Homo sapiens: one gene and its partner. The protein of the gene in region 2 purifies or fractionates together with the protein of the main gene of each other region. This does not show direct contact. Each region holds a gene or a part of one and is shown on either strand. Other genes may lie near its edges.

Region 1 (4,107 bases), on a different chromosome or scaffold from region 2:
GGTGCAGAGCTATAGAATGTGTAAGTTACTGCCTTCTGTGTAAATTAGGGTTTGCTTTGTTTTTACAATAAAGTTATGTACATTGTTTCAAGGGCTGTATTCTGTCTATGCTATTTTAAAATTTATAGAATAAAGTGGTATTAGGCTTTTAGTATTTTTGCTCATTTTAATTATATACTATTTTCCTTTTCATATTTTTCTAGGCTAATCTCTTCTCACGTGAAATGACTCCCTTGATTATTCCGATTTCATTGACTCTAAGTAGAAGGCAAACCCTGTGGTATCAATTTACAAAGGGAAATGAAGAAGATGCAGTACATTTAGGTGAAAACAAAATAAACGTCAGTTTCTCCAAATTTGTGTGCTTAGTCAGATCTAAATATATTGATGTAGTGTAAATACTGAATATTGAAATATTAACCTAAATAAGCATTTATTATTGGTAACAGCTACGGGAATATACAGCATGAATGTGACTTGGCTGCTTAAAAACTGTTCCTCAGATGGTTTAAACATGGCCTCCGAGACTTGTTCCCATTTAAATTACTTCATAAACCATTTCCTCAAATATGGTACAAAGTCTATTTTGGCACTTGTTAAGTTGTCACAAATTCTGAGTTGGAAGACTATGAATTAATGAAGTTTTACTTCCTTTTGTAATTTCTTTCCTAGGTTTCATCAAAGACAGTACTTTCGCTTGCTTGTTTGTTTCATTTGAAGAAAAATCAGCCAAAACTATTAAAAACAATATTTGACTGTTTGTAGTGCAATACAAAGCTACGTCTTGAAATTATAACCAACAAAACTCCAAAAATCTGTTTAAGGACACATTTTTAAATTTAGGACCGTAGTATATGCAGTTAACAATCATCATTTCTTAGCACTCTACATTCACTGCCAGCAAACTTTCAACGTATCTGGTTGATAATGAAGCTGGCGGGGACCCAGTGGGAACAGAAGTGAGTGGTACAAAGTAAAGCCGATGTGAATTTATTGCTACTGGTTTCAGGCTCCTTACCTCCATAGGCTTATGCACTGCAATGACCTGATTATCAGAAATACCCTCACAATTATTCATAATACCCATAGCTATAGGCTCCACACTCTTGCGTGTACATTCATGCATCTCCACGTCACACGGGCTGTCATGCTCGCACATGTGCCATTAATTGACAAGAATGCTGCTCAAGTTGGCTGATCAAGAGATAGGCAGTGCAAAGGAACAGGATTTGAGACAGCCCAGGGTTTCCTCTTCAAGTAGGTCTAAAACATTTTTTTTTCTCATTGACTTCCTTCCTGTTCTAACTGCCAGTACTCAGAAGTCAGAGTTGAGAGACAGAGGCACCCCGGACAGAGACGTGAAGCACTGAATGTAAGTTCAAATACCTCGGGCTGGGGAGGCTTCAGGTGGGCACAGAGCAAAGTCGGAAACCTCTAGACGGGGCTACCGCCCTCGACAGTTTATTATTTTTTTAGAGGGGCAGTTCTTCTTTAAAACAAACTTTATGATAAGAAATTGCTAAGGAGGCTGCAGAGAAGGGGAAGTTAGAGGAGGGAAGGGTAGCAGTGACTCAGGGGAGGAGGCTTAAAAAAGGAGGGTACAGGGTGCGCTGCAGCCCAGGAAGTGCAATCCTGAATATTCTCAGAAGGGCTCTGAGAACACGCACCGGGAGTGCCTGGAGGGGTTTCCTGCAAAGTAGGAGCAGGCACCTGGCCAGGCTTGGAAGAAAAAGACTGTAGATCCAAAATGATACGGTCTGTGCTGGTGGATGGTGGGTTGTGCTGGGGTGGAGATATGTGGTTTCCTGTTTTTAAGCAGACAATGTAAAAAGACTGGTTGAAAGAGAAAAAAAAATGGTTCAAAGCTGTCAAATATTAAACTGTCTTCCACTAAATAATTTTCTGGTGATATAAGAGAAATGCATAATGAAATCCTCCCTTAGAGTGCAGGGGCTTTATCCCTCAAAGAGGAAGTATGGTATAGCACATTGTTATGTACTCATGAGTCATACAGTGATAGAATTTCTACCACTGACAAAGGCTGTGTATTAAATTCCTGCAGTCGGATGGGCAGATCTTTGCTGTTGTTGTCAAAAATAATAATAGGGCTGGGCGTGGTGGCTCACGCCTGCAATCCCAGCACTTTGGGAGGCCGAGGCGGGTAGATCACCTGAGGTCAGGAGTTCAAGACCGGCTTGACCAACATGGTGAAACCCCATCTCTACTGAAAATACAAAATTAGCTGGGTGTGGTGGTGCATCCCTGTAATCCCAGTTATTTGGGAGGCTGAGGCAGGAGAATCACTTGAACCCAGGAGGCAGGGGTTGCAGTGAGCCAAGATCACGCCATTGCACTCCAGCATGGGCAACAAGAGCGAAACTCTGGCTCAAAAAATAAAAATATTAATAATGATAATAGCCCTTTAGGTATGAGATAACTAACAGCAAACATGGAAAACACCAAATAACGTATTAAGAGACAGGTTTGAGAAAAATTCAAGGGGGCCCAGCTAGGACAGCTGATCAGTGGGCCTTCAAAATGTCAAGGTCTGAATTTCAGCCACCATTAGGAGAAGTGCTTTAGGTATGACCTGAAATACTTTCTTCCCTTTTAGAGGACTTCCCAGCCAGCATGTTTCATAAACATAATCTGTAATTAAACTCTAGACCTATGGTAACTTGAGGTGTGTGTCTGGCAAGCCCTGGGCAGTTCTTCATTCAGAGTGGGGAAAGGCAGACTGCTCTCACCCGGAGGGCTCATGGTCACCACTTCACATGGAGACCTAGAGCCCCTGGAGTCAGGGTTGGCCTGGCCATCTTCACTGCAGGGATGGTCAGGCACAGGAGATCAAGAGGACCATGGCACCTGTTGGTCCGGAGAGACAGGGGGCAGAGGTCCAGTCCCTAGCAGGCATCGTGAATCTTGCCATTGGCTTTGTGTTTTTTTAATTTGTAAGAATATATTCCCTCCCAAAGCAGATATAGCACAAGCTTAGTAACAAGAGCATCTTACTCTTTTGTGAGATGTGTGAAATTCTAAGAGACAGTTCTTTCTCCATCCATGCTTCACAGATGCAAAACCTGAGGACTAACTATGCTGTCACTGAACAGAAACTGGCAAGCATTTTTCAGGCCTCGACTGGAATTTGGTCCTTCCTTGCTTTGGAGAGCATGAGTTTGTCCCCTAGGGAAGTTAGCTCTGAGCAACATTAAGGTTCTGTTTTCAGTAGACACTCAGCACCACAAAGTCATTCTGAGGGAAAGATACGGGTCTGAGCTGATTTGGGAGAGCACAGTACATGACAAACATCAGCTAGCAGGAAAAGAGAAGCCCTGGGGAGTCGAAATTATGCAGATAGAAAAGGAGAACCAACATTCATTGAGTGCCTTCTATGTGTCAGGCCTGGTGATAAAAACTTTCAAATTTTGTTCCTGAGAAGAATGCAGAAGTGTTCAATAATTTGACTAAAATTACATACTGATACAAAAAGGATCAATAGCCACAATGCCTCTGAATTGCAATTCACAGGGCATGGTGGTGCGTGCCTGTGGTCCTACCTACTCAGGAGGCTCACGTGATCCTCCCGCCTCAACCTCCCGAGTAGCTGGGACTATAGGCGCGCATCACCACGCTGGCTAATTTTACCATTTTTAGTAGAGACGGGGTTTCTCCATGTTGCCAGGGCTGGTCTTGAATTCCTGGGCTCAAGCAATCCGCCTGCCTTGGCCTCCCAAAGTCCTGGGATTAAAGGCGTGAGCCACCATGCATGGCCTATTATTATTTTTTTGAGACAAGTCTCACTCTGTCACCCGAGCTGAAGTGCAGGGGCGTGAACGCAGCTCACTGCAGCCTCGACCTCCTGAGGCTCAGGTGATCTCCCACATTCTTTAGGAAGAATCACATGGAAGAAATTTTCTCCAATTCCATATTTTGAGAGTTCTTATTCCTGGTTTGTGTTATTGCTGCCCGGGATCCTGTATTCAAGGCTACACTGGCATACCCAGAGATGAGTCTCATGTTGCCCCTGAAACGTCAGCAACATTTATCTGTGCAATAAGCACATCCTGAATCATCCTGTGTTGTGTTACTCTCTGGTGTCCACAGCCA
Region 2 (3,500 bases):
GGAGGAGGGGTCAGAACCCAAGAACCCTCACCCACCTGCTCCCACTTCCCGGAACCCTAGCCTATCATTCCTCCATTCCATCCCTCCCCACCTTCACCTCTGCCCGCCACCACCACCCCCACACTGCAGCTTCCTCTCCTCCCCCATTCCTCACCTCACCTTTGGAACAGGTCACTGCTGCATCCCCCAGGCTCAAGGGCACCTCGTGAGTCAAGCATCCAAACACCGTCACGTTTTCCTGGCGCACGGAGCTCTGGGGAGGGCAGGTATGGAAGTGAGGCCGCCACATCCTCCATCTCCACCCACCGCCACCCTCAGACTCCCACCCCTGTTAACCCACACCTTCCAAGGACAGCCCATTCCTCCCGGCGCTCTCCACGCCAAAGCTGCTCTCTCACCTCCATTCTCAGAACAGAAAAACTGAAAAACAACAGATCCTCCACAGCAGAAATCTTTCAAGGACTGATGAGACGGCAAGGCCCAATTTTGAATCTGTTCTTTGGGCAGAAGTGTTTCAATTCTGTCCAAGCAAGAGAGAACACCCTCTTTTTCAGTCCTATCTAGCTCATTAAGGAGAAGGAGGGCTGTTGCCAGTTATAGAAACTAATTGTGGACAAAGGCAATTGTAAGGTTTCCCATCATCTTCACCTGGACCCCAAGACAGGTGGAGCATGAAGACACTCACTCCAACTCAGGTGAAATGATCCTAGGTACTGAACAGTGGTAACAGAATGCCCAAGAGATTAAATGTAGCAACCTGGCTGGGATTAAAAGAAACCAGATATCTGCAAGAGTAAATGTAAGGTGTTGTCTACAAGAATAAAGGCAACAGGATGCCATAAGCTCACCTCATTCAAGAAGGATTTGAGGCAGCTTACATAAAATAGAATATAATAAATGCCTGAGGGAAACTTAAAAATCAGGACAGGAAAATAAAGTCTGTCCCTAAGGTAGGCCATATATTTGATACTGCCTTCCAAGCAACCAAAGCAAAGGAAGTATCATGAGTTACCAGATTTGCAACTACATAATATAAAAGCTAATCAGAGTCTCTGGAGAATCACAGCATCCAAAGGGGAAGTTCTGAGATAAATTCTCATCAAAGCGGCACTGTGTGTTGTCATGCATCCTGTCCTCAGCCACAAGAGTGAGTTTCATACAACTTCCTTATATAACTTCCTTCAATGCAAGCCCGGGGCAATATGCCAAAGTATTACTCAGTGAAAGTCTTTCTAGGAGGGAGCCAAAGAAAAAAGTATATGCAGTTCTCTGATCCAAATGTCCAGTTCTTGATCCAAGGGGAGAAAAAAAAATCAAAATATTTGGAGGAAATACCTTTCAGAATAAACAGAACAGGCTGAGGTGCTTAGCACGCGTCATAGAATGCAGATGGATGGAATGTAAACAGATGCTCATTAAAGTGAATGGATGGGAATGCAGAGAGGGAAAGGGTGAGGGGCTGCAGGAGGGCTAGGCTTCTATTCTCAGGGTACTGAGGAAGAAAGAACAAGTATGCGTAAGGCTGTCCTCTAATTCAGGGTCTACGGTTTCAAGGTCGAATCAAGATCTCACTGTCATTGCCCAGAGGCATGGCAATAAGCAAACACAAAATACATACAGTCTTAGCTAGAACAAAGAGAGAATTTGATTATGTAAATAAGAAATATCTTCAGGTTGAATAAATGGCTCTAACAGGACGACTAGAAAGTTCTAAGCCGTGTCCCATAAAAGACCACATGAAGCCACAGACCAGGCCTCAGGTTGGCTGATGGGAAAGCGGTCCCTGCTCTCAGGGCTGGAGGATAGTAGAGTTAAAAGGATCCCTGGCTCAGGGAACAGCTAAGCTGAAGATATTCTCTAATGGGCCAACATAGGGCTCCGCCCTCATCTCAGTCTTAACGCTGACAGTAATGACTAAGAAGTACAAAAAGTTGGCTTTGCAAGTGTGTGAATTACACAAAGTGGAGAAGGCCCGAGTTCCAAACCAGTATTAGGCAATACCTCAAGGAGGGACATAAATTCTTCCATTCAGGTTCAAAAATTCACTGCAAAAATGCAAGATGCGAATTGGCACCAAAATGTATATGCCCCTTGATTACAACTAGATAAACAAAGTAATTAATGTGGAAAAGACATGGGAGGACATAAACCAAAAACAGCTGTGGGCCAGGCACAGTGGCTCACACTTGTAAACCCAACATGTTGGGCGGCCGAGGCAGGCGGATCAGTTGAGTCCAGGAGTTTGAGACCAGCCTGGGCAACATGGTGAAACCCAGTCTCTACTAAAAATACAAAAAATTAGCTGGGTGTGGTGGTGCACTCCTGTAATCCCAGCTACTCTGGAGGCTGAGGCACAAGAATCACTTGAACCTGCGAAGTGGAGGTTGCAGTGAGCCGAGATCACACCCCTACACTCCAGCCTGGGCAACAGAGTGAGACTCCGTCTCAAAAAAAAAGGGTTAAACAGTTGCATTAGGGAGATATTTTCCCCTATTTTCCAAAGTTTTTATGTGATCCTATTACTCTTATAATAAAAAAGTAAATGTATACAACTGGTTTGAAGAAAATACAAAGGAAGTAAAGGGAAAAGACCCAGGGATCTCAGTTCACCACAAGCCCTAGGTGATCCCACAGTGTAATGCAGCTGCTGAAAAAGGCAACTCAATCTCAGGCAGCACAAATGCAAGTCTTGTTACCTGGTACCCCGGTCCGACCACCTCAGATCACTTATTTCAGAGACACAGTGACCACTAGAAGTATGACCAGGTGAGATAGTGAAGGAAGGGGAGAGATCCAAATACCAAGACCCCTAAGACACTGAGGTTCTTCAGCTTTTGGGTGGTTGCAGGTAACATCTGAAGGGCTGTAAAAATAGGACTGGGATGTAATAAATATATCATACTAATGTAAGATATTAATAATAGGGGAAAACGTGAGAGAGTGGGTATATGAGAACTTTGTGCTTTCTGCTCAACCTAAAACTGCTCTAAAAAAAATTAAGTCTGTTGCTTTAAAAAAGAACAGGACAGAGATAGATTTACTGGAAATGGCTTCTGGATATGGCTTTTACCCACTGAATCAAAGATGAGTGGGTAAAAAATTCATGGAGACAGATTTTGATGGGATGTCAGGAATGCCTTTGGCAATCAGCGCTATCCAAACATGAACTGTGTGGCCTCAAGAGGTGGTAAACTCCCCATCAAAGGAGATTTGCAAGAAAAGGTTAACAACTACCGTAGTGAAAGGCCAGTAATGAGCAGGAAGTGAGCCTACAAAACTGGGAAACCCCAGACACTGAGTTGACCTGGTTGACCCGCCCATCTGTAGCAGAGTGAATACTCAGGACATGTTTGTTGACCAGAATTGGGCTGAGCCATGGTCCCTAATTGTCAGGATGGGTGGGAGCAACCTGGACAGGCTTCCTGGAGGAGGTAAACACCCCAACACCCCTGACACCTTCCCCTTCAAGCTCCCTGGCAGAGCAACCTCCCCACTCTCCA

What was found. The genes of interacting proteins can lie anywhere in the genome.
Region 1: the proteins of TMEM8B (region 2) and ARHGDIB purify together in Homo sapiens (affinity purification with mass spectrometry; one large-scale study listed by BioGRID and IntAct). This does not show direct contact.

The regions. Positions count from the first base shown.
Region 1 is NC_000012.12:14,958,802-14,962,908, reverse strand, and holds the start of ARHGDIB (rho GDP-dissociation inhibitor 2), read left to right. Parts: upstream 1-1,307; 5' UTR 1,308-1,372; intron 1,373-1,628; exon of another isoform or gene 1,629-1,755; intron 1,756-4,107. UniProt on the Homo sapiens protein: Regulates the GDP/GTP exchange reaction of the Rho proteins by inhibiting the dissociation of GDP from them, and the subsequent binding of GTP to them. Regulates reorganization of the actin cytoskeleton mediated by Rho family members.
Region 2 is NC_000009.12:35,842,728-35,846,227, reverse strand, and holds part of TMEM8B (transmembrane protein 8B), read right to left. Parts: intron 2,864-3,500; coding exon of another isoform or gene 2,828-2,863; exon of another isoform or gene 2,697-2,827; intron 521-2,696; coding exon of another isoform or gene 515-520; exon of another isoform or gene 432-514; intron 421-431; coding exon of another isoform or gene 343-420; intron 254-342; coding exon 160-253; intron 1-159. UniProt on the Homo sapiens protein: May function as a regulator of the EGFR pathway. Probable tumor suppressor which may function in cell growth, proliferation and adhesion.